3 separate regions of the Homo sapiens genome follow, and regions 2 and 3 are each linked to region 1. The links come from fine-mapping of genetic effects on gene expression. A gene starts in region 1. Each other region holds a variant in brackets. All regions are shown on one strand. Distances are from middle to middle.

Region 1 (8,179 bases):
TTTGTGGGCTGCTGGGAAGACAATTTACCAATAATTATTATTTTGTGACAATCTATGAGTTGTTTCAATAAGCCACTTCCCAGAAGTGTGTAGGAAAAAATTAAAAAGCAATCTGTTTGGAATGAACCTTAGGCTTTGTCAAACTGCCTCCAAATTAAAAGGTTATGATCAAATGTATTCTTAAACAGTTTAGATGACAACACTGCTTTACCCAAAAGAAAGCTGATACTTTTAGTAGGAGGCCACTGGTGAGAAGATCCAGCAGGATGATCTGAGAGGAATCATTAAAAAAAAAAAAAATCAACTTCAAATGGAAAATTAATGCAACTATATTCTGAAGTATATGCCACAGAACTATTTTTAAGACCATCTCATGCTTTCATTTTCAGAAGCTGGAACAGTGCTAATAGAACTTTGCAATAATGGAAATGTTCCATGTCTGTGCTAAATACAACAGCTACCAGCCACATGTGGCAAATGAGCACCAGAAATGTGGCTAGTGTGACCGAGGAACTCAATTTTATTTCAACTTAATTTTTACTTAAATTTAGCCAGCCACTTTGTATGGCTATCTTATTGGACATCACAGAGATGGAAGATGCACTCTGGAAAAGGCTGCTCCGAACTGTAATTTCCCCCATCGGTTTATTCTGAGAAGTGCAAAAAGTAGGGTGGAGCTGACCTCTCCTAGCAGGTTCCCACACCAGCAAAGCCTTTCAAATCTCCAGGGTTTCTCCTCCAAACTACTCCCTTTAATGTCTTTCTCTGATCTCCACCCCAACACCTTTCACCCCTTAGCACCTCCCTAACTTGGCTAATAGGCTCTCAGAGAGGCCCCTTTTTTTCTGTTGCTGCCTGGGCTGAGCACTGGTAGAATCCCATACATGTTTATGATAACCACACTAGGCAAACTCTGCTGTAAGTTCTGGAATAGGCATGCACCTTGCCTTACCTTACTGGAATGTCTGATAATTTACATTTGCTTCATTCGGGCTTCTACTGGGTGATACATCTGTAATCCCAGGAGAGCCCTGCCTACCAGGCACAATATCATGGTCTCTTTTTTTTTAAAGATTTTCAAAGTTTCAAATTTTCAGCAGAATGTTTTGAGCCTGCTTATTGAAAACCACATCTCAAAGGGGGAGATGGGCCAGAATAAAAGCCTAGATTTATACACACATACACCCGCACATGTGCACAAGCATACACACCAGTGCACCCCCTATACAGCTTCCCTACAATGCATATCTTTGTAAAAAATGTCCTGAGGAAAGGAGCAGTGCTGTAATCCCAGCACTTTGGGAGGCCGAGGCGGGCGGGTCACTTGAGGCCAGGAGTTTGAGACCAGCCTGGCCAACATGGTGAAACCCCATCTCTACTAAAAATACAAATATTAGCCAGGTGTGGTAGCACGTGCTTGTAATCCCAGCTACTTGGGAAGCCGAGACATGAGACTCACTTGAGCCTGGGAGGGCGAGGTTGCAGTGAGCAGAGATCGCGCCACTGCATTCCAGCCAGTGAGAGACTCTGTCTCGGAAAAAAAAAAAAAAGTCCTGGAAGTTCTAACTTATGTCTTCCAGACTTGAGGGCCTATTTAATCCCTCCGAAATGGTTAGCTTCTCTTTTTAAGAATAATTTTCTAAAAGAAAAAGAAAGAACTGAAGTTCCGAATAATGGGCCACATTTTGGAATCACAAGTCATTAATACACAAATAGATGAGAATGTACTCCTATGTTAAAAGACATGCCTCTACTTGAAAATACACAGCCATTTATCTTGTAGATCAGCTTATAACCGCCCAGGTCTCATTCTTTGCTAGTCTGGACCTGAGAATGCATTAAGATCAGTTATGAAAATGCAGAAGTTAATTCAACTTCCTCCTATGTGTTACACTGCTCAGAAAAAAGTATACAGCAATCACCCAAAATAAGACTCTGGGCTGATTCATTTGAATATTTAAAATGCAAAGAAACTGGTAAGAGAGGCTAAGACAAGAAAGAAGCAAGTCAGCCTCAAATATAACCAACTGCAGCCCCTGGCAGGAAACAGTACTGCTCACTACACGTATTACTTCAAGGAAAGTAGTGCTTTGTTTTACAGATAAAATCTGTGGCCTTATAAAGGAGACAGGACATACTATATATTCAATTTAAATGGCAGTTAATACTTTCTAATGCCTCCAAGCCACAAGTACATTATGACCACTTAAAAATTCCCCTCTACCAATCTTCTCCCATCTGTGGATCTGCAAGCACTTTCCTATTACTAGTTCCCAGTTCACCAGAAACGGTCTGCACTTATTAACTGTGAAACCCAGATGTGAAGCCCCATGCTCATACATAGGGAAATGAGGCAAAGGGACTGGCCACAGGCCACCAAAAATTAGAACCCAAAATCCTTAGCTCATGTTTTAAATATTATACTAGAAAAGCAAAGCAGCTTTGGAGGAGCAGATTGTCTTCTACTGATTCTTGTGTTTGGCAGAGAGGCTGCCTTGGAAAGATGCCCTAAGCCCATCTTTTAAAAAGTCCAATCGTAAAGACAGGTTATCTAAGAACTTTATAGATTCTGGAGTCTTTGAAGTGTGTAACTGGGCCAGGGCTACCACAGAAGAAATCACAGACCTAGGGTCTTGATGTAAGAATTTACAAGATAACCAGATAAAGGCTAGTGGGTGAGGAGAGAGCATTAGAACCTCAAAGGAGAGATAAGGAAGGGGTGTGGAGCGAGGGACAATTGGCTTTGCTTTAAAAATATGTAACAAAATGGCCCAGTGTCTCTCACAGAAGGGTTCGGGGAAGGGAAACCAGAGATCGCGTTTTTCCGGCTCTAAGACTGGGTCGGCTTTTAGTCTTCTCTTCTGCTCCTTTTAAAGGAGATGGGGGTGGGGAACGAGAATGCTGGTGGCGATGTGGGCCTGCATCTCCTTCCCTCCTCCAGTCCTGGGAATTCCTGAAAACTCCTTCCAACCCAATTCCAAACAGGCTCTCTCTGGGTTCAGAACAATGCCGGGGAATTTCACGCAGGGAAGGGGTCCCCTTCTCGCCCCAGAGGGCAGGGGGCTACTCCGGAGCGAGTTCCGGCTCCAGGGTCCCCCACGTCCCACAGGTCTCCTGCCCTTTGGCACGCACAGCCCTCACCACTCGCTGCTTCCGCATCCCTCCTCTGAGCCTCTCCCCACGCATCTCTGCCCCTCGCCCGGCCGCGCCCAATCGCCTCCCACGTCTACCCCGCTGGGGCAGCCCCTACACCCTGCCAGGCACCCCATTTCTCTCCTCCAGGTCTGGGGGACTGGACAACATTGGGGATTAGCTGGGGTCAACTCTGCTTCCCCCGCCACCCCCGGCCCCGGGCGCGCGCTCACCCGGCGGCCGCGTTCTCGAACTTGAGCGCGAGCGTCTCCTCGATGATGCGGTTGTTCACCTCCAGCAGGATCATGGCGGCGGCTGCCCCCAGGGGAAGGAGAAACAAGGGCCGGTGAGGGTGGGTAAGGGAGGCAAGGACGGAGGGAGCGGCCCTGCTGCCCCCTGAGTGGGGCTGGGTGGGGTAGGAGGTTAGGGGAGAAGGGGAGAGGGGCCGGGGTGGAGGGAAGGGTAAGACGAACGCGCTGGCCCACGCACGCAGACTGTGGAGACACCCACCCACCCAACCGACCTGGCCCCCGAAGCCTGAACCCGCCTGCCGAGCCGCCGCCGCCGCCGCCACTGCCGCTTCACCGACAAGCCCGGTCCCCGCCCAGCCCCCGGCTCTAGCCGGCCACTTCCGCTCTCACACCCACTTCCGCTCGCCGCCTGGACGCGCGGCCCCGCGGCGCCATTTCCGCTTCAACCACTCGTGAACGCGAGCGCAGGCGCGCCGGAGGAAACGGAGGCTGCGCTTGCGTATGTGTGATGCCGCCGCCCCACCGTCTACTTTCCCACCGACCCCGCTTACGTCTACCGCCTACCAGTGCGTCCCCCGCGGAGCTGTCATTCCCCGAGGCTTGCCTGACTGTTCAGCTTCTCTCTCCCGCTTGTCCCAGAGATCCAACTCCATTCTTCCGGTCTTGTCATTTCAGAAACCTCGCAAGAAGCTCGCCCTTGTCGTCTCCCAGCGGGCTTCTTAGCTCCCAGCTTGTTTGATGGGGGTGCCTCTTTTTCTTTCCAGGTATAGCTGTCCAGCGACACCATCATGCATTCATTTCTCCAACAAACATTTTCATGGGCTCTTGCTCTATACTGGGGATGTAGTGGTAAATGAAATGGACGAGGCCCTGCCCTCGTGGAACTTACAGTCTGGCAAAGGAAACAGACAATAAAATTCTCAGTTGTCTAAGGAGGCAGAGATGCATGGGGAGAGGATCAGAGTAGGGATGCGGAAGCAGCGAGTGGTCAGGAGTGTGCGTGCCAAAAGGCAGGAGACCTGTGGGACGTGGGGGCAGCTGGGGCCGGAACTTGCGCTGGAGGAACACCCCTTGCCTGCTGGGGCGAGAAGAGGACCCTTTCCTTGGGTGAAATTCCCCATATTGTTAAAAGGACAATTAAAGAAATGAAAGAGAGGTCACCTGGGTGAATAGGCAACTTAGATGGGCCTCCCTGTGTTCCTGTCATGCCTCCAATTCTGCGTCCAGGTGTCCGGAACACATTTTTTTCTGCCTTTGAAACCTTCCAGTACCTCTGGCAGAGATATACCATACCCTCCTTGTTACCTGCGTGCGGAATCTTAACTCATCGTTGTGCTACATCTGCACCTTCTGCCTTTGTGCCTTGTTTTGTGTTTTCCCTCCTCCGGGGAGAATATAATAAACTTAGCTGAGTCCGTTCTACATACAAGGAAATAATTTATTTTCTGCTATGTGTTTGGGGATGGGGATAAAAAAATGAACAAGAAACTAGCTCCTATCATTAAGGCACAGATAGCCCTTTGAAACATTACTTAACGGGCTATGGATAAGCTTCAGGATATTGCTGATCCCCTAAAATTATACGCTAACTTAAATTTTTTTTTTTTTGAGACAGAGTCTTGCACTCTTGCCCAGGCTGGAGTGCAATGGCATGATCTCGGCTCACTGCAACCTCTGCCTCCCCGGTTCAAGCGATTCTCCTGCCTCAGCCTCCCAAATAGCTGGGATTAAAGGTGCCTGCCACCATGCCCTTTTAATGTTTTGTATTTTTAGTAGAGACGGGGTTTCACTATGTTGGTCAGGCTGGTCTCGAACTCCTGACATCATGATCCTCCTGCCTCGACCTCCCAAAGTGCTGGGATTACAGGCGTGAGCCACCATGCCCGGCCTTTTTTTTTTTTTTTTTTTAATTTGAGATGGTGTCTCACTCTTGTCACCCAAGCTGGAGTGACGTTGCTATCTCTGCTCACTGCCCGCCTCCCGAGCTCAGGTGATCCTCCTGCCTCGGCCTGCCAAATAGCTGGGACTATAGACATGCACCACCAAGCTGGGCTAATTTCTGTATATTTTGTAGAGACGGGGTTTGGCCGTATTGGGCACGCTGGTCTCAAACTCCTGGGTTCAAGTGATCCACCTGCCTTAGCCTCCTAAAGTGCTGGGATTACAGGCGTGAGCCACCATGCCCGACCGATAAGCTAGCTTTGTAACATTAATGACTATTGAACTAAAATAATGTTTATAAATTGTTTAAAATATGTATGCTTATAATACTAAAAGGCTTGTAATGAAAAAAGCAGTTCCCTGTCCTACTCTTTGGAGGCAATATGCTCAACTCTTTCACAAATTCATCCTGATATTTACCTTCATAATCCCTTTCTTTCTTTCTTTCTTTCTTTCTTTCTTTCTTTCTTTCTTTCTTTCTCTCTCTGTCTTTTTCTTTCTTTCTTTCTTTCTGATAGGGTTTCACTTTGTTACTTAGGCTGGTGTGCAGTGGCACACTCTTGGCTCACTGAAGCCCCGATTTCCCTGGGCCCAAGCAATCCTCCGGCCTCAGACCCCAACTAGCTGGGACTACAGGTGGCCACCAATATGTCCAGCTAATTTTTGTATTTTTAGTAGAGACAGGGTTTCACCGTGTTGCTTCGGCTGGCCTCGAACCCCTGAACTCAAGCGATCCGCCTGCCTTAGCCTCCTAAAGTGCTAGGATTACAAGTGTGAGTCACCGTGCCCGGCCTACCTTCATGTTTCTAAGTAAATGTTTATACCATTATTTTTTGGTTTGTGAATTTTTAGCATTATGTGTTGACTTCCTGACACGGTAGATAAGAACTTGACTCTATCACTTCTGCTTCCCACCATATATAGCTGCGTAATAACTTTTGGTAAAACCAATAATCTGCACCTAGCTGTATTAAAATTATTATGTATGCAAATATTGTTTACTGATGAGCCAAGAAATGCACTATAATCATGACTTCTAGTTTACATGGCCCTTCATTTTTCTTAGGGTTAATTATTGCCTTTTTTCTCTCATCTGTCTGATTTTCTGTAAACAGTATTTACAGTTGGTTTTTCCCCTCAAATGCTCTAAGACTATCAAAAAGTCTAGCAATAATGTTTTCCATATACTCAATATATAAGTTCCACTTTTTCTTTGGAGTTTTTGTCCCAGAGCCTTCCTTCCTCTTATTTCAATCTGGACTGGCTGCTCGCTAGACTTGCTGTACAGTTGTCATTCTGGAATTTTCCTTCATTGTTGTTCTGGGGTGGTTTTGCCCATTTCCTGGATCCCATGTCTTCCTCTTGGTTTACTTCCTTGTTTTGCTAAAGCATCTCCTCTAATAACTTCCTAAGAAAGGGAGATGGGGGATATATGTTGTTAGAATCTTTGCATATTTGAAAATATGTTACTTCTATTTAACACTTGATGTGTTGTTGGGCTAGATATTCAAGTTTGAAAATAATTTTCCCTTTTTTTTTGAAGGTATACTACATTTTCTTTTTTATTTATTTATTTTTTTATTATTATTATACTTTAAGATTTAGGGTACATGTGCACAATGTGCAGGTTAGTTACATATGTATACATATGCCATGCTGGTGTGCTGCACCCATTAACTCGTCATTTAGCATTAGGTATATCTCCTAATGCTATCCCTCCCCCCTCCCCCCACCCCACAACAGTCCCCAGAGTGTGATGTTCCCCTTCCTGTGTCCATGTGTTCTCACTGTTCAATTCCCATCTATGAGTGAGAACATGCAGTGTTTGTTCTTTTGTCCTTGTGATAGTTTACTGAGAATGATGATTTCCAATTTCATCCATGTCCCTACAAAGGACACGAACTCATCATTTTTTATGGCTGCATAGTATTCCATGGTATATATGTGCCACATTTTCTTAATCCAGTCTATCATTGTTGGACATTTGGGTTGGTTCCAAGTCTTTGCTATTGTGAATAGTGCCGCGATAAACATGTGTGCATGTGTCTTTATAGCAGCATGATTTATAGTCCTTTGGGTATATACCCAGTAATGGGATGGCTGGGTCAAGTGGTATTTCTAGTTCTAGATCCCTGAGGAATCGCCACACTGACTTCCACAATGGTTGGACTAGTTTATAGTCCCACCAACAGCGTAAAAGTGTTCCTATTTCTCCACGTCCTCTCTAGCACCTGTTGTTTCCTGACTTTTTAATGATGGTATACTACATTTTCTTACACCTTCTAGGGTTGCTATTAAAAAAGTATAATTCCTATTCATGTTTCTGATCCTTTTGTCTGTTACATCTCCCCCATCTGTGGAAGCCTTAGGATTCTCTCTTTAACTTGTTGGTTAGAAATTTTAGAATGATTTGCTTTATTGTACCACTTTCTTAATTTGTTGTACTGAGCACTGATTCAAAATAGAAATTCATAGAGCTGAGCATGGTGGCTCATGCCTGTAATCCCAGTACTTTGGGAGGATAAGCAGGGAAGATTGCTTGAGCCCAGGAGTTTTAGGCTGCAGTGAGCTAGGATCATGACACTGCACTCTAGCCTTTACGACAGAGTCTTAAAGAAAAAACACAAAAAAAGAACCTTCTTTTCATCTTGCAAAACTGAACTCTAAACCAACCCATTGTTTGTTTTTTGTTTTTCTATTTTTGTGGAATATCTTCTTGCATTATCTTCAGCCATTTTAACTTTTTGTTTTGTTTTGTTTTGTTTTTGACACAGGGTATCGCTCTGTTGCCCAGGCTAGAGTGCAGTGGGCAACCTCAGCTCACTGCAGCCTCAACCTCCTGGGCTCAAGCGAAC
Region 2 (8,179 bases), 220 kb before region 1:
GGGCCAGGGCAAGAACCCACAGGCAGTATGGAGAACCCTGCCTAGGCTATGTAGGCTCTGGGAAATGCAGGGCTCCTGGGGATGGGTGGGGGTCCCCCCAGATAATAGAAGGGAGCCCTGCCACAGAGGAGTGAAGGGACCATGGCTCTGAGGAGTCCCATCTCCATATCCTAGAGCACACTTATGCTGAATGAATGAATGAATGAATGAGTGAATGAGGCTGAGAGAGAAGCCAGCACACACTTGAGGTGAGGGAAAGGTGATAACTAAAGTGGATTGAGAAAACCTGGCATCTCGATATGCTGCCTTGAGTAAAAACTAAAAGCCCATCTAACTGCAGAATTTAAAAAAACAAACCAACAAATTTAAGGAAATTAAGCTTTCTGCTTCCCTAAAGCCATCTGTTGTGACAATTTAGAGCACCCAGAGCCACCAGGCCAGGCTTCACTGTACCTTGGCCTTCTTCCTACCGAAAACCTTTGCTGGAGTTCCATTGTGGGTATCTGCCCCTTGCTTCTATGTGGGGCCAGTTTAGGAAACACCCCGTGGGAGGTTGGCACACCATCCCTCAGGTAAGGACCACACACATGACCCATTTTGCTTAGAATTTAGCACCAGGAAGACATTTGTCAGTCCTTTAGAACCAACGTGTTTCAGCTGGCATGGAGGATCCACCATGTTGCTGCAATGATGAGAACATTCTCACCTCTGCTGCCCAACACAGTAGCCAGCTGCCACATGTGGCTAGTGACAAACTGAATTTTGAACTGTGTTTAATTTTAATTTAAGTAATCAGTACATTTCTTACCTATACTATCCAGCAGCTTTGCTCTAAATGTAGTGCACAAACAAGGCACTATAATTAGCCTTGGTTTTTGATAGACTTCTTCCCTCTCACCAGAGGCCTAATGGCCTTAGTGCAGCCTTACTTTCTATTCTAAGCCTCCTCTAGCCCCTTTCTAAATCAGCAGGTCATATATCCCAAAGAGACAGAATGGCCTGCAGGAATCAGCACTGATCTCCAGGCAGGGCTAGAGAAGGACATGCTGGGATGAGGCCACTCACACTCCACTTGAAGGGATCCCAAGCCAGGAACCAGCCTGTGAAGGTGGGGGGCTCGTGTCCCTGCTTCACCACAATGATGGGGGTCTCAGGGTCACGCCCGCTGGGATGGGTCTTGAGGTATTCCTGTGCAGTGGTTGCTGCGGCCTTCTTCTCCTCCTCGTTGGCATGTTTCCCAATCCAGAAGAAGACCTATTGAGAAACCCAGGGGATCAGTCCATCCTTCCTGTCCTCCCTGGCCCACAGGGCTCTGCCTCAGTTGTCCAACAGTGAAACCCTGACCTTGACCCTGACTCTACCACTACCAGCCAAATGACCTAGGGCAGGCATCATCTGGCCTTGAATTTGTATCTGGGAAATTAGAAGGTTGGACAGATGCCTTGTACTTGGATATTCTGCAAATGTGTGTCTCCCAGACTGTCCAAAGCCCAGGATTCTCAAAAACACTCCTGCTGCCATGTGAAATAAATAGGACTTTGGGAGAGAATACGTTCTTCCCTGCAGCCCCTCTGAGCATGTTCCTCCCCACCTTCCTTCTTTCTTACACTTCTGGTGTTCATACCATTTCCAGGGAGAAATTATGTAAGGGCCAAGAAAACATTGACACTTACCTAACCTTAAAGCCACTCTTTCTTGGCCCTGGGGATTGAGGTGGCTGGGAAGAGGGGTCCCCAGGCCCTTGGTCCTACCTGGTCCCAGACATCTAGTAGGAACACATCATCCTCTTCCAAGTCATCCTGATTGAAGTCAGGGATCTCTGTGGCCAGGAAGCGCCCAGTCTTGTTGGAACACTCAAAGAGCCGGGGGGTGATGACCAGGTTTTCTTCCTGTAGTCTGCAGGATGGAGAGAAGATTGTACTGGCAGAAGGAAGGTGTGGCAAAAGGAGAATTGAGGACACAGAACTCTGAGGAAGGGACTCTGGCATAGAAAGGTCATCTCCAGCAAAATGCTCTATCTTCTGATTGATAAAAGGGTCCCCTCTCATTCCAAGAGTGCTCTGAGGAAGAAATTGTCACTGCTTTCTGGACATGCATTCCAGTGTCTTTTGCAGAGCCTTGTTAGGAAGTTCTTCCTGATATCTTCCCTCCATCCCTCCTACTGCTACTACAGTACATGCCCTTTTGCTTTTGAACTAGGGACTAGTAGATCATGGATATTCTCTAGAAAAACCATTTGAGCCAGTCACCGTGGCCCACACCTGTAATCCTAGCATTTTGGGAGGCTGAGGCAGGTGGATCACCTGAGGTCAGGAGTTCAAGACCAGCCTGGCCAACATGGTGAAACCCTGTCTTTACTAAAAATACAAAAATTAGCCGGGCACGGTGGTGGGCGCCTGTAATCTCAGCTACGCAGGAGGCTGCAGCAGGAGAATTGCTGGAACCTGGGAGGCGGAGGCAGAGGCTGCAGTGAGCTGAGATTGCACCACTGCATTCCAGCCTAGTTGACAGAGCGAGACTCTGTCACAAAAACAAAACAAAACCATTTGAAAGAGGGCTTGTGGCTGGGGCTCCTCAGCATCCCAGGCCTGTGTCAGGACCTAAAAGCAGGCTGGCCTCTGGCATCTTGTTACTGAAAGGCAAACCTCTAGCCCTGCCCCTTGCTTTGAGCTGCCTCCTATGGCCAGGAATTCCCTTTGCCAAGGAAATACCCCACCAGGTCCTGGGCATACTGTAGTGAGCAGCACAGACACAGCCCCTGTGCCAAGAGGCTCCAAGGGTATGGGCTGCCCTTTATTCATCTTGTAGCCCTGGGGGTCTGGCACAGTGCCTGACACACAGAGTCCTCAGTCCATGCCTGCTGTAGGCTCTGGGTGTAGGGATGGAGATGCTGGGCGGCTCCCCCACCTTGGTAACCTGGAGGCGGAGGGACCTGAGAGTTACCTCTTGGTGTTGGCATAGGGGGCCTTCCCACCCAGGGCCATCCAGAAGTTGGCTGGCTCCTGCCCTTCCACCACCACTTGCTTCTCCGTCCGGGAGATGGTGTCAGCAACCATCTTGGCCATCTCCCGCTCGTCCCCGCTACAACCCTAGGAAAAAAAAGAGTTGGCTAATTTCTAGTGCCACCCCTACCTCCACCCTCCTACTACATTCACTGCCCAGAGTTCAGGGGTCAAAGAGGGCTCTCCTGGGTCAGGACCTTGTGTATACAGGCCACACAGGGACAATTCCATGCTTTCTTCTGTCCTTGACACTCCAAAGAATAGCAGAAGAAACTAGAGAGTCTTTTCAAGGTTCGAGAGGGACTCCAAGAGGCTATGCATTCTTCTTACAGAGATCAAAGGAGAGGCAGTGACAGGCTCAGGGTAGTGAGAGAGAGCCCAAGACATAAAGACAGACCAACACAGGGACAGATGGAGGTGGCCAGAGAAACAGAACAAGAGAGACTGACTCCGACAGAGAGGCAGAGAATCTGAGGATGGTCATTGATGAGGCAGAAGGATAGACCCAGAGCTACTGAGGAGGGAGAGACTGGGCTCCAGAGGCGGCTGAGAATTGAGCAGGCACAACTTAGTTGGCCAGGGGTTCCTGCCCTGACCTAGGGCTGCTGCGAAACTGGGGGACTCCCAGGACCCACTTGCGGATGGGGAGGCCTCTAGACCCTGAACACACCTTCCCACACCATAGATAGCAGCAAGACTGGGTCTTGAGGACAAAGACATCATTGGAATTGAGGAAATTGGCCCGCGCTGGGACCTCAAAGGCCTTGGTGTTGTTGGCGCCAGTTCCCTGGACCTGGAACAGCCGTGTGGAGGGCCCGGTCTCCAAGTTGTTAGTTCGGGAGGTGCCTCCCTGCAGGTGAGGGCAGAAGACAGGGAGAGAGAGTCAGGAGTCACTTAGTAAAGAAGATGATGGGGAACAGAGGGGGATAGGGTAGGGCGGGGAGGTTTGCCCCTGAGCTCCTCTGATGCTCCGTCACCAGGTCTTTCTAAAACATTGTTTGCATCACAGCGTTTCTCTTTTCAAAAATGTTCAGTGACTCCCCATTGCTTCTAGCCTAAAGCCCAGCTCCTCAGCTTTGCCTTTGAAGGCCCCACATGACGAAGATGCAAACTGCCTTTGCAGACACTGCTGCCATCAAACCCTCCAGCTAGCTCTGCCAGGCTTTTTTTTTTTTTTT[G/TG]AGACGGAGTTTTGCTCTTGTTCCCCAGGCTGGAGTGCAATGGCACTATCTCAGCTCACTGCACCCTCTGCCTCCTGGGTTCAAGCAATTCTCCTGCCTCAGCCTCCTGGGTAGCTGGGATTGTAGGCACCCACTGCCACGCCCGGCTAATTTTTATATTTTTAGTAGAGACGGGGTTTCTTCATGTTGGTCAGGCTGGTCTCGAACTCCCAACCTCAGGAGATCCGCCCGCCTTGGCCTCCCAAAGTGCTGGGATTACAGTTGTGAGCCACAGCGCCTAGCCTTTTTTTTTTTTTCCTTGAGACGGAGTCTCGCTCTGTTGCCCAGGCTGGAGTGCAATGGTGTGATCCTGACTCAGCGTCTCCCAGGTTCAAGCCATTCTCCTGCCCCAGCCTCCCCAGTAGCTGGGATTACAAGTGTGCACTACCACGTTTGGCTAATTTTTGTATTTTTAGTAGAGACAGAGTTTTGCCATGTTGGCCAGGCTGCTCTCGAACTCCTGACCTCAGGTGATCCACCCACCTCTGCCTCCCAAAGTGCTGGGATTACAGGCGTGAACCACCATGCCTGGCCAGTTCCACCAGGCTTCTGATGTTCCCCAGGGAGCCTCTCCCCCAGGCCCTTGTCCTTGCTGTGCCCCCTGCATTGCATGCCCTCATTTTGAACTACTGACCTCAGGTGATCCACCCACCTCAGCCTCTCAAAGTGCTGGGATTACAGGTGAGAGCCACCGCAACCGGCATTTTTTTTTTTTCTTTTTTTAAAGATGGAGTCTCCCTCTGTTGCCCAGGCTGGAGTGCATTGGCACAATCTCGGCTCACTGCAACCTCCGCCTCCCAGGTTGAAGAGATTCTTCTGCCTCAGCCTCCTGAGTAGCTGAGATTACAGGCACCCACCATCATGCCTGGCTAATTTTTGTATTTTTGTAGAGATGGGGTTTCACCATGTTGGTCAAGCTGGTCTTGAACTCTTGACTTCAGGTGATCCACCCGCCTCAGCCCCCCAAAGTGCTGGGATTGCAGGCGTGAGCCACCATGCCCGGCCCAATTACACGTATTTCTAAAGTAACCAAATGGGTTGTTTCTATTACCAGTTCCACATAGGTGATAGAACCTCCAGGGTAGTCTCCTATGAAGAATGGGCTTCACCTCAAGCCCTGCTCCCACCACCCATCCCCTTCTCCATCTCCCGGATGCCTGTCTTGCCACAGTGGTTACTGCCAGACACCTCAGTTCAGCAGCCACACCTGGTAGACCACCATGCGTCCCTTGAAGATGGACATAAGATGAGGTGGCTCCTTGCCCATTGGGACCCGGATCTGGACTGGTTCACCATTGTACTTCTGGTCCAGGATGACGGCTTGATAAGCTGATGCTGTAATTTCATCTTGGCTGGCCTGGCTGCCCTGGGGATGAGCAGGAGGGAGTGAGTGGGATTGGGTCAGCCCCCAATTCTGACCCCATCCTCAGCCTCAGCAACAACTCCATCCTCAAGTCTGAACTGGTCCTAAACCCAATTGTCTTCCCCACCAAACTCCACTGTGAAACAGCCAAAACCCCAATCTGAACCATACCTCAGTTCTGATCTCAACCTCAAACCTAATTCTTTCCCAGACCCAGCCCAGCCCTGACCTACCTGCAACCCCAGCCTTAACCCCAAACCTCCTCCTTTCCTTTCTGCTCCTTCTTCAGGGAGACATCACAGGCACCACACCACTCAGTCCTAGACACACTCCCTGCTCCCTCGCATCTAGACACAAAAACCCATGGGCAGAGCAGGTGACAAGAATGTGCAGAAGGCAATGAAAATTGGAAGGGAGACTCAGAGAACCAAAAGGAAAAGGGCTGTGAATGGGGGTACTAGCGGGACCTCATAGCCAAAGCAGTCCTTCTTGAAGGGGTGAGCACCCCATCCCCAGAGGTATTCAACCCAAGGGTGATGGCCACTTAGCAGGAGTATGTACAAGGCAGAGCTAAGCCGGCTGTGCTCTGGGTGGGACGTGGCGGGACCTGACCTGCCAAACGTAGAGCAGGTAATGCTGCTTCTCGCCGATGAGGTAGGTGTAGAGCAGCAGGTAGCAGTCGCCCCCATAGAAGTGGCCTAGCCACTTGGAATCCACAGGTACCAGCTCTAGGTTCTCAATGCGCCACACCTAGGGCCAGTATCAGGCCAGGGTGAGGTCCAGGACAGGCTCCACCATTCCTGCTCCACCCAGCACGGGCCTCTCTGCCCTCACATACCTGCACTTCCCCACTCCCATCATCTACCATCTTCTGCTGGGCAGCCACCTGAGGCTTGACATGCATGGATGTGGCATCGAACTTCACCTGTTCCACTTTGGCTAGAGTGGGGGAAATCATGAAACCAACTGTCACCAGCTGAGGTCTCCCAGGTCCTCACAACAGCCCTGAATGGTGGCTACAATTCTTAGACTCATTTTCAGATGAGGAAACCGAGGCAAGAGAGATTCAGTAGCTTACCTGGTTGCACAGAATGTGGCAGAGCTACAATAGAGAACCACATCTCCCTCCCTCTAAAACTCCTGCTCCCAGGGAGCCAGGAGAGGCATAAGAGCAAGGCTTTAGCTTTGTTGATCTACGTCCTGACCCCTGCAGCATTCAGACTTCAAGCCTTGACCTTGTCTCCCAGCTCAATAGGGAGCTGTGCAATGTTGGGGGCTGTACACTATTACTTGTCCTCTCCTAGGTGCTGGGCACCGAGCTTGCCCTCAGCAAATACTGGCTGGTAAGAGACTGAAGCTGTTCGGTTTTCAGGGAGGCCCAACCCCATCCCAAATGAAATATCACATCACTGACAGCTCCCCTTTTTTTTTTTTTTTTTTTTTTGAGATGGAGTTTCGCTCTTGTTGCCCAGGCTGGAGTGCAATGGCATGATCTTGGCTCACTGCAGCCTCTGCCTCCTGAATTCAAGCGATTCTCCAGCCTCAGCCTTCTGAGTAGCTGGGGTTACAGGCATGCACCACCATGCTTGGCTAATTTATTAGTTCTTTTTTTCAGTAGAGACGGGGTTTCACCATGTTAGGCTAATCTCAAACTCCTGACCTCAGGTGATCCACCCGCCTCAGCCTCCCAAAGTGCTGGGATTACAGGCATGTGCCACCATGCCCAGCCCTCTCAGCTCCCTTTTTGTGACAACTAGAGTTTGTCCACGTCCCCATCTGCTAGGACAAGCCCAGAGCCAGCGTAAAAGTCTTCGTTGAAGATGCACGTCAGGGAAGGAGGGTGGGTGGTGGACCAAGTGGCTCTCCTGGCCCAGCTCCTGGATCCTGGCTCCCTCACTGCCCCCGCCTGGCCCTCACCCACGGAGCCCACAGTGTGGGTTTTGCCTAGGCCTGAGGTCCGGTTGGACGCTGTCCACTTCTGGAAGAGCTGCTGAAAGACGGCCGACTCAGCCCCATCATTCTGCACCTCCACCTGTGTGCTTGGTGGGTACTGCTTGGCTTTGATGAAGTTCTGGAAGAGAAAGGGGTGGCTGGAAGCTATGCACCTCCCCTAGTCCCCACTCCCAATGCAAGCCAAAACCTAGCTCTAACCTAACCAGATCCACCATCAGATCTACCCCGGCACCAAAACTGAACCCAAACCCAATCCCAATGCTAATCCCCAACCTAACCCTACTCTGACCCCAGCCTCAAGGTCAAATCTGATACCGCCTGAAACCTAACACTGGCCTCAAGACTCACTCTGACCTCAGCTTCAAATCTAATACCGAAACACAACTCTGACCCCAATCCCAAAGCCAAATCTAACGCCTAATGTGACCCTACCTCAATGCTAATCCTAATGCCCAGTCCCCAATCCAACACTGGCCCCAAGCCAGTTAGGGTTACGACTCCAGCCCCAGCAATGACCCCAAACTCTGACTTGGCCCTGGTCTGAGCTGACCCAATCCCCTTTTGTAGGAAGCCAGCCTCCCTCCATTTCTCCTTCCCTTCTCCAAACTCAGCTCAGGTGCAGGGAGGTGAGAGCCCACATCCTG
Region 3 (8,179 bases), 23 kb after region 1:
TAACATATTTCTTTAAGAAGGTTTAAAAGTCACAAATTTGGAGAATATGCTTGGATATCTCTTTCCTCTCCCCTTCCTCCTCCCGCTTCTCTCCCCAATAATTCTGTCCAGAATGGCCTTCCTTCCCTCCCTTCTTTTTATTTAGAATGAAAGAGACTTAAGAGGTTTTCATTGCTGACTAGGTGGATGCAAGAGAGAGGGAAAAGTTGGAAAGAAAGAAAGAGAAAGAAAGAAAGGAAAGAAAGGAAAGAAAAAGGAAAGAAAGGAAAGAAAGAAAGAAAGAAAGAAAGAAAGAAAAAAATGAATAGTGTGAGGCTTCTGAAAAATGATGGGGAGATAGACTCTAGGATGCAGGTGTTGGGATTGGGTTTGGAGTGGCCAAGGGACACCAACTTATTTGTGGCAGAAGGAAGGCACGTATGTATGTATGTATGTATGTGTGTGTGTGTGTGTGTGTGTGTGTGTGTCTGTGTGTCTGCGTGTCAGGTGGGGGCAGTGATAATATTGGTTTGGTTTCAGGAAGCAGAGAGAGGCTTAGGTCCGATTGTCTTTTGTTTCTACCTCAGTCCTGGAGGCACTACCTTCTATGTAATAAACTGTTCATATTTGTTGAACAAACGAAAGGGTAAATAAATCCTTAAAGGACAGCATAAATAGCATATCCCTTCCTTAGATTTTCAAAATGAAATCTTCACTTTTGTTATCATACAAATGACACATGCTGTTTGTAAAAAGTTTCAGTAATATAGAAAATTTCTGGCCAGATGTGGTGGCTCACGCCTGTAATCCCAGCACTTTGGGAGGCCGAGGCGGGTGGATCATCTGAGATCAGGAGTTTGAGACCAGCCTGGCCAACATGGAGAAACCCTGTCTCTACTAAAAATACAAAATTAACTGGGCATGGTGGAACATGCCTGTAATCCCAGCTACTTGGGAGGCTGAGGCAGGAGAACCACTTGAACCCAGGAGGCAGAGGTTGCGGTGAGCCGAGATCCTGCCATTGCACTCCAGCCTGGGCAACAAGAGCGAAACTTCGTCTCAAAAAAAAAGAAAAAGAAAAAAGAAAAAAGATAAAAGAAAATTTCCCTCAAATTCTAACCTGCAGGGATAACAACTGTTAAGTGTCAGCCTTACCAGTAGGTTATATATTAAACAAAAGAGGATCACTTGATATGTGGAACTGTGTAAGCTGTTTTTCTCATGTGAACATTTATGTGCTTTGTGTCAATATGTAAAGATGTTCTTTATCTTTTATAACACCTGCCTGGTCTCCATAACACCTCCGAGTCTCATAAATTTATTTAACCAAAACCCTGTTGATGGGCATTCAGGCTGTTTCTAACTTTTCAGTACAATAACCCTTCTTGTTCACACAACTTTGCACCGTGCACCATTCTTTTCTTAAATTCCTAGAAGAGGGCAACATGCCTGCGCATTTCAACTTTTGATACTTATCTTCCAAGTTTGCCTGCTGAAGCCAGTTTAGGCTTCCATCAACAGAATGGAAGTGCACCTGTTTCTGTCCCGCCCTTGCCAACAACTGGCTACTAGAAATCTTTTTAATTGTCTCCATCTAAGTGAAAAATGATATCTCATTTTATTTATTATTTATTTTTAATTTAATTTTTTTTTGAGACAGAGTTTTGCTCTTGTTGCCCAGGCTGGAGTGCAATGGTGCGATCTAGGCTCACTGCAACCTCTGCATCCTGGGTTCAAGTGATTCTCCTGCTCCAGCCTCCCAGGTAGCTGGGATTACAGGCACCCACCACCACACCCGGATAATTTTTTGTGTTTTTAGTAGAGATGGGGTTTCACTGTGTTGGCCAGGCTGGTCTCGAACTCCTGACCTCAGGTGATCCACTCATCTCAGCCTCCCAAAGTGTTGGGATTATAGGCGTGAGCTACTGTGCTTGGCCAATATCTCATTTTAATTTGCTTTTCTGTAATTATTAGTGAAGTTGAACATCTTGAGTGTGAATTTTGGACATTTTTGTGTCTTCTTTTAAAATAGAGTGCTTCTTTATGCCTTTTACTCATTTTCCTACTGGGTTTGTAATTTTCTTATTATTTCCAAACAATTCACAGTTTAATAATAGTACTTTTTCTCCATCATGTTGCGAATGTTTTCTTTCCATTTTATTGTCTTTTGCTTTGCCATATAGAGATTTTAGTTTCACATTTGTCAATCTTTTTCTTTTCTTATGGCTTTGTCTTTGACATATTGCTAAGAGAGCTGATTACCACATTAAAATTATAAAACATTCTTTCATGTTTTCTCTATTACTTTGTAGTTCAGCTTTTTTCATTAAGTTTTGTTCTTTTCCGCTTTTTAAAATTAGATGGGCAATATGTGGCAATATATGATTATATCCTAATGACATCCTTGAATGTAATCACTTTGTCTCCTCATAATGCCCTCATACACTCTTCAAAAGCAGAGAGGAGAAAAAGAGGGATGATGAGAAATACTTTTTTTTTTTGGTGAACTTAAATAGAACAGCTGATCTTATGCAACTAATAAGTAAATAATTCTGCATTTCCATGAAAAAAAGAATGACTGTTACCCAATTAAGATTTATCCTTTCAGACTCTATTCATGCATTTCTTTCATATGTTCATATGGGTATCTATGCACACATGTAACATAAATGGTATCATTCTATGTATGTTATTTATAATTTGGTTTTTTTTTTGAGATAGAGTCTAGTTGCCCAGGCTGGAGTGCAATGGTGTGATTTTCGCTCGCTGCAACCTCCACCTCCTGGGTTCAAGTGATTCTCCTGCCTCAGCCTCCCTAGTAGCTGCGATTACAGGCATAGGCCACCAAACCTGGCTAATTTTTGTATTTTTAGCAGAGATAGGGTTTCACCACGTTGGCCTGACTGGTCTTAAACTCCTGACCTGAAGTGATCTGCCCGCCTTGGCCTCCCAAAGTGTTGGGATTATAGTCGTGAGCCACCATGCCTGGCCTATAATCTGCTTTTCATTGAACATTAGATAGTTCCTTGTCAGTACATATATATTTACTTCTTCCTTTTCTAACTGACTGCTGCACAATAGTCTATTGTATGAATGTAGCATAGTTTATGGATAAATTCTTTTATATTTAAGGCTTTCGTCCATCTGATTTTTTTTTGCATCTGTGTATGAGTGGAGTGAGTTCGGGATATAACTATTTTTTCCTAATAATTTCCCAACTATCCTATCACCACATGTTGCATAACCTCTCTTTTCTCCACTGACTTCAAATGTTATTGTCATAATTGAATGGACACTAAGCAGAGAATGCTGGGAGGTGGGCGGAGCAAAGTGTTCAGGAACATCTGAAGGAGCTTCCTGCTTTTGCTGGACCAGTGGTAACAGCTGGCCTGGGTATTCCTGTTTCCTCCCCAGCCACATAGCTTTCTCTGCACCAACACAAAAAAGGACTGCCCAGTATTCCCTAATTTATCCCTAGAAATAAATGCAAACATCTTAGTTTTGAAATGAGACCATTTAATACTACTACCACAAATCCTGTGTAAGTCTTACTATTCAGCAGACCTGCTGATCATCTCCATCTCTGTAGAGTTCCTGAGGTGTGTGTGGGCCTAGGTGCCATGTGAGTCGGGGAAGACCCTGCTCCAGAGCCTTCCCTCCTGGGAATTGAGGGTGGGGGCATCAGGGACATAGCTGGAGCTGGGTTTGCTTTTGCAAAGTGTTCCATTGGTAAAAATGGGATGGTTTTGGGTGATTCATGGTGAATCTATTTTAATTTAAATCATTACATATTTATTTTAAGTCACGTTAATAAAAGTGACTCAATTTAAAGAAGAACATGGTATTTGAGCAGGCATGGCAAAAATGCTGAAGGTGGTTTGAGGATGATGGAAGTTTGGAAGACCCCAAATTAGATGATCGTATTATTAATCAAGAGTGCCTTCAGCTGCTAGTAACAAAAATCTAACTCCCAGTGGCTTAAAAACATAGGAGTGAGGTTTTTTTTTTGGTGTTGTAATTTTACACATAAAATTTGCTAATATTGGTTGGATGCTCAGCAATGTCCAGGGCTGACTTCTGTCTTCCCAGTTCTTTTGTCCTTCTCCCGATGGTTCCATGATGGTTGCTGCTGCTCTAGCAGTCACAAGCAAAAGGAAGGAAAAGGGAGAGAGGGTGCCAAGCAGTGTCTTTCTTTCTCTTTGGTAGGAAAAGTGAGGTTTTTCAGAGTTCCCAGCAGTCTTCTCCTTGAGCCTCATTGACCAGAATCATATCCATGGCCACCGTTAGGTGTAAAGAAGGCTGGGAGAGTGGGCAATAGGTTGCATAACTGGCTTAGACCATCCTCATCCAATGGAGGTTCTGTTAGTGAG[G/A]GAGGAAGGGGAATGGATGGTGGATAGACAACTGCCACGTCTGCCATGTGGGAGTGCGTGGACCCATAGAGGGAAGCAGAGATGCAGACCATATGGCCCCAGAGAGAGTGCTGCAGTGGGAGCAGCGTCAGGCTTCCAGCTCCAGTTCCTGAGTGACAAGCTGTCCTGCATTGCCTGTTCTTGCAAGTTGGCGAGATTGCCTGTTGTAATGTTTCCATCAACTCTCTTTTGACTTGAGCTCCTGGGAGTTGGTTTCTGTTCTTTACAGCCTGGAGCAGAGTTTTGGACACTTTTTATTTTATTTCATTTTATTTTATTTTGAGACAGAGTTTCCCTTTTGTTGCCCAGGCTGGAGTGCAGTGGCACGATTTCGGCTCACCGCAACCTCCGCCTCCCGGGTTCAAGCAATTCTCCTGCCTCAGCCTCTGGAGTAGCTGGGATTACAGGCATGCACCACCACGCCCGGCTAATTTTGTATTTTTAGTAGAGATAGGGTTTCTCCATGTTGGTCAGGCTGGTCTCGAACTCCCGACCTCAGGTGATCCGCCTGCCTCGGCCTCCAAGTGCTGGGGTTACAGGCGTGAGCCACTGTGCCCGGCCCTTGGACACATTTTAAAGTTTGTTTTCTCATTTGTTCTTTACAGTAGTTATTATTATCCTTATTTTACAAAGAGGAGAAGGAGGTTCCAAGAGGTTGGGTTAAGTTGGCAAACTCCATGTGACTGTAACCCAGGTTTTCTGACAACTAACACATTTTTCATGCTGTCTTCCTATTTTTAAGATTACCACCTTTAAAGGGGAAGTGTTTGTTCCCTAAATAGCACCAACAGGACAAAGGGAATAAATATATGAGAGACTGAGTTTCTTCTGGGGCCTGTCAATGCTACCCATCAACCCTGTCCCTGGATTAAGTCAAAAGGCAGGAGGCAAAAATCTTGGCTGTGTCATGCACTGGGCTTTAGAGACCTAGGGAATGTTTAGTTTTCTGTTTGTCTATTTCCAAACATTATGTGTGTAATTTATTGTCCCGATTATAACTCAACACGGTTGGAAGATGTGAGCCATTCAAGTCACAGATTTGTGTGAGAAGCACAAGAGAAAATAAGTGCATCTGGGAGCTGCGACCACCAATAGTTTTTATCATTGCCAAGACAACACTTTGAGAGCCAACGTTTTGATCAATTCCTTGTCAAAAATAAATCATGATTTATTTTCCCTAAACTTGCTGTTTCTCTTGCATTCCCTGTCTTGGTAAATGGTACAACTATCTACGCAGTCATGCCAGGCTTTCCTCACCCTGGCACACAACACTTTGACCACATTATGCAGATTCCTTCCCCTAATTACACAGTAACATGCCCCTCCCCCTTTCCCTTTATTCTCCTACGGAGGATGGTGGCCGCAATCTCCTACACTCTGTGTTTTCTTGGTTGTTAGAAAACCTGGGATGCCTGTTAATCATATAGGTTCCCAGGCCCTTCCCCTAGACTCAGCAGGTCTGGAGGGGGCCTTGCAATCTGTATACTTAACAAGTACCCCAGGCAATTCTTCTGAGCAGTGGGTAGCACTAGTACCTGGCTGGCCTTGCTTCAGGTCTCTCTCTTGTCAGTGTAGCCCCATTCTGCTGTAGAAGTATCTTCCTAAACTATGCTGGTGGTTCTTTATCTGCAGCGCAAAATCCAAACTCTTGTAGCATGGCAAACAGGGCATGATTTGGTTCCTACCTCCCTTGCTGGCCTCGTCTACTTCCCTGGTTGCTCATAATACAAACTGCCTGTTAACTCTGAGGATTCCATTGCTCTGTTATTGCTCAATGCCTTTGCACATGCTGTTCTTTGTGCCTAGACAGGCCTCCTTCCCCAGGTCTATCTGGAAAATCCCTATTCATCCTGCAAGACCCAACTCAAGTGTTGCCTCTTTCTGGAAGCTTTTCTTGCTGTCACTGCAGCTTGAACGTACATGTATTATTGCAGTTACCCCTGTGGCTCCGCTATAGCAGAGACTGTGCTTAGCCCACAGGTTCACCTAGTATTTGTAGTAGTAGGTGCTTGTTAAACAGGGTTGAATAAAGGTAGCTTCTCCTATGTGAGAGGAAATGTAGTGAAAGCAAGTAGAGCAATTTTTAGGAAAACAGTATTCCCATCTTTAGCTTGTGAGTCTAAACTCTCAGGAGTTTCTTACTGTGAAAATCAGTCATCATTTTATCTGTGTGCATTTACGAAGTCAATATATTAAACTGTTTAACAGTAGTTAACATATATCTGGTGCCAACCAGTGTGCCAGGAACTTTGCATTCACCATCTCACTTCGTCCTGCAGATGAGGAAACCGAGGCTCAGAGGAGAATTAATTTTCCCAAGGTCACGGCCAGGTGTGGTGGCTCATGCCTATAATCCCAGAACTTTGGGAGGCTGAGGCAGGTGGATCAGCTGAGGTCAGGAGTTCAAGACCAGCCTGGCCAACATGGTGAAACCCCATCTCTACTAAAAATACAAAAATTAGCCAGGCGTGATAGTATGCACCTGTAATCCCAGCTACTTGGGAGGCTGAGGTAGAAGAATCACTTGAACCCAGGAGGCAGAGCTTGTAGTGAGCCGAGATCAGGCCACTGCACTCCAGCCTGGGCGACAGAGTGAGACGCCTTCTCAAAAAAAAAAAAAAAAAAAAAAAAAAAAAATTCCCGAGATTACAAAACTGGTAAATAGTAGAATTGTTACAATGCTATTCTGCTTCTTCCAGAGATTTAGTTAACAATCATTAGGATATGCAGTATGTGTCTAGGATGAAACACTCTAGGTAATGTAAATGAGTGAAGCACTCTGGCCATGAGGCAAGGAGGGGTAGAAAGTGTGGCAACCAGTTACAGGTTAAAGAAGTTGGCCAAGACAATGCCAGCTGATAGCCCCAACATGTTATTGTGAACAATTTTAAACATAAAGAAAAGTTGGGCCTGGCGCAGTGGCTCACGCCTGTAATCCCAATACTTTGGGAGGCCGAGGTGGGTGGATCACCCGAGGTCAGGAGTTTGAGACCAGCCTGACCAACATGGAGAAACGCTGTCTATTAAAAATACAAAAAATTAGCCAGGTGTGGTGGCTCATGCCTGTAATCCCAACTACTCGGGAGGCTGAGGCAGGAGAATTGCTTGAACCCAGGAGGCAGAGGTTGCAGCGAGCTGAGATCACGCCATCGCACTCCAGCCTGGGCAACAAGAGTGAAACTCCATCTCAAAAAAAAAAAAAAAAAAAAAAGAGAAAAGAAAAGTTGACAGAATTTCACTGTCTACTTGTACATCTACTACCTAGATTCTGCCATTAACATTTTACCTGCTTTATCTCATATTTATCCATTATCCATCCCTATAGCCATTAATCTATTCTTTTGGATGTGTTTCAAAGTAACTGTGGACACCAGTATACTTCTCCCTAAATACATCAGTGTGTACATCATTGATTAGAGATCAATATTTGTTTATAGTTTTTTTTTTTTTTTTGAGACGGAGTCTCTGTTGCCCACACTGGAGTGCAGTGGTGCGATCTTGGCTCACTGCAACCTCCGCCTCCCAAATTCAAGTGATTCTCCTGCCTCAGCCTCCCAAGTAGCTGGGATTACAGGCATGCGCCACCATGCCCTGCTAATTTTTGTATTTTTAGTAGAGACGGGGCTTCACCATGTTGGCCAGGCTGGTCTCAAACTCCTGACCTCAAGTGATCCTCCTACCTTGGCCTCCTAAAGTGCTAGGATTACAGGCGTGAGCCACTGCACCTGGCCTTTAGTGTTTTCTTTTGATGTAAAATTTGTAGACAATGAAGTGCACAAATCTTAAGTGTA

Direction of the effects. Alleles are on the strand shown, and positions count from the first base shown. SD is a standard deviation of normalised expression in the study named. Not every link is listed here.
For the expression in sigmoid colon of the gene that starts at base 3,721 in region 1, G is the low allele of the variant in region 3 and A is the other (small effect, 0.26 SD a copy in GTEx).

Evidence for each region. PIP is the estimated chance that this variant, and not a neighbour inherited with it, causes the effect.
Region 2: its variant is the best candidate, but not a certain one, in a credible set for the expression of ARPC2 in naive CD4 T cells (Schmiedel 2018, PIP 0.87).
Region 3: its variant is the best candidate, but not a certain one, in a credible set for the expression of ARPC2 in sigmoid colon (GTEx, PIP 0.51).

The regions. Positions count from the first base shown.
Region 1 is chr2:218,212,731-218,220,909 of GRCh38, reverse strand. ARPC2 (actin related protein 2/3 complex subunit 2) reads right to left here and starts at 3,721. Exons shown (of 11, transcript NM_152862.3): 1 at 3,656-3,721; 2 at 3,366-3,447. The coding sequence starts at 3,439. LOC101928487 (a long non-coding RNA gene) reads left to right here and starts at 3,724. Exons shown (of 2, transcript XR_923908.2): 1 at 3,724-3,882; 2 at 4,059-4,809. RefSeq lists a silencer at 3,538-3,587 and an enhancer at 3,109-3,712.
Region 2 is chr2:218,430,199-218,438,377 of GRCh38, reverse strand. VIL1 (villin 1) reads right to left here. Exons shown (of 20, transcript NM_007127.3): 10 at 7,500-7,653; 11 at 6,421-6,521; 12 at 6,195-6,332; 13 at 5,427-5,585; 14 at 3,673-3,852; 15 at 2,944-3,089; 16 at 1,752-1,896; 17 at 1,066-1,254. Among named protein-coding and RNA genes, the nearest start is that of VIL1, 15 kb to the right of the region's middle. The variant G/TG (reference allele first, on the strand shown) is at 4,181.
Region 3 is chr2:218,190,191-218,198,369 of GRCh38, reverse strand. No RefSeq gene overlaps it. Among named protein-coding and RNA genes, the nearest start is that of ARPC2, 23 kb to the left of the region's middle. The variant G/A (reference allele first, on the strand shown) is at 4,350.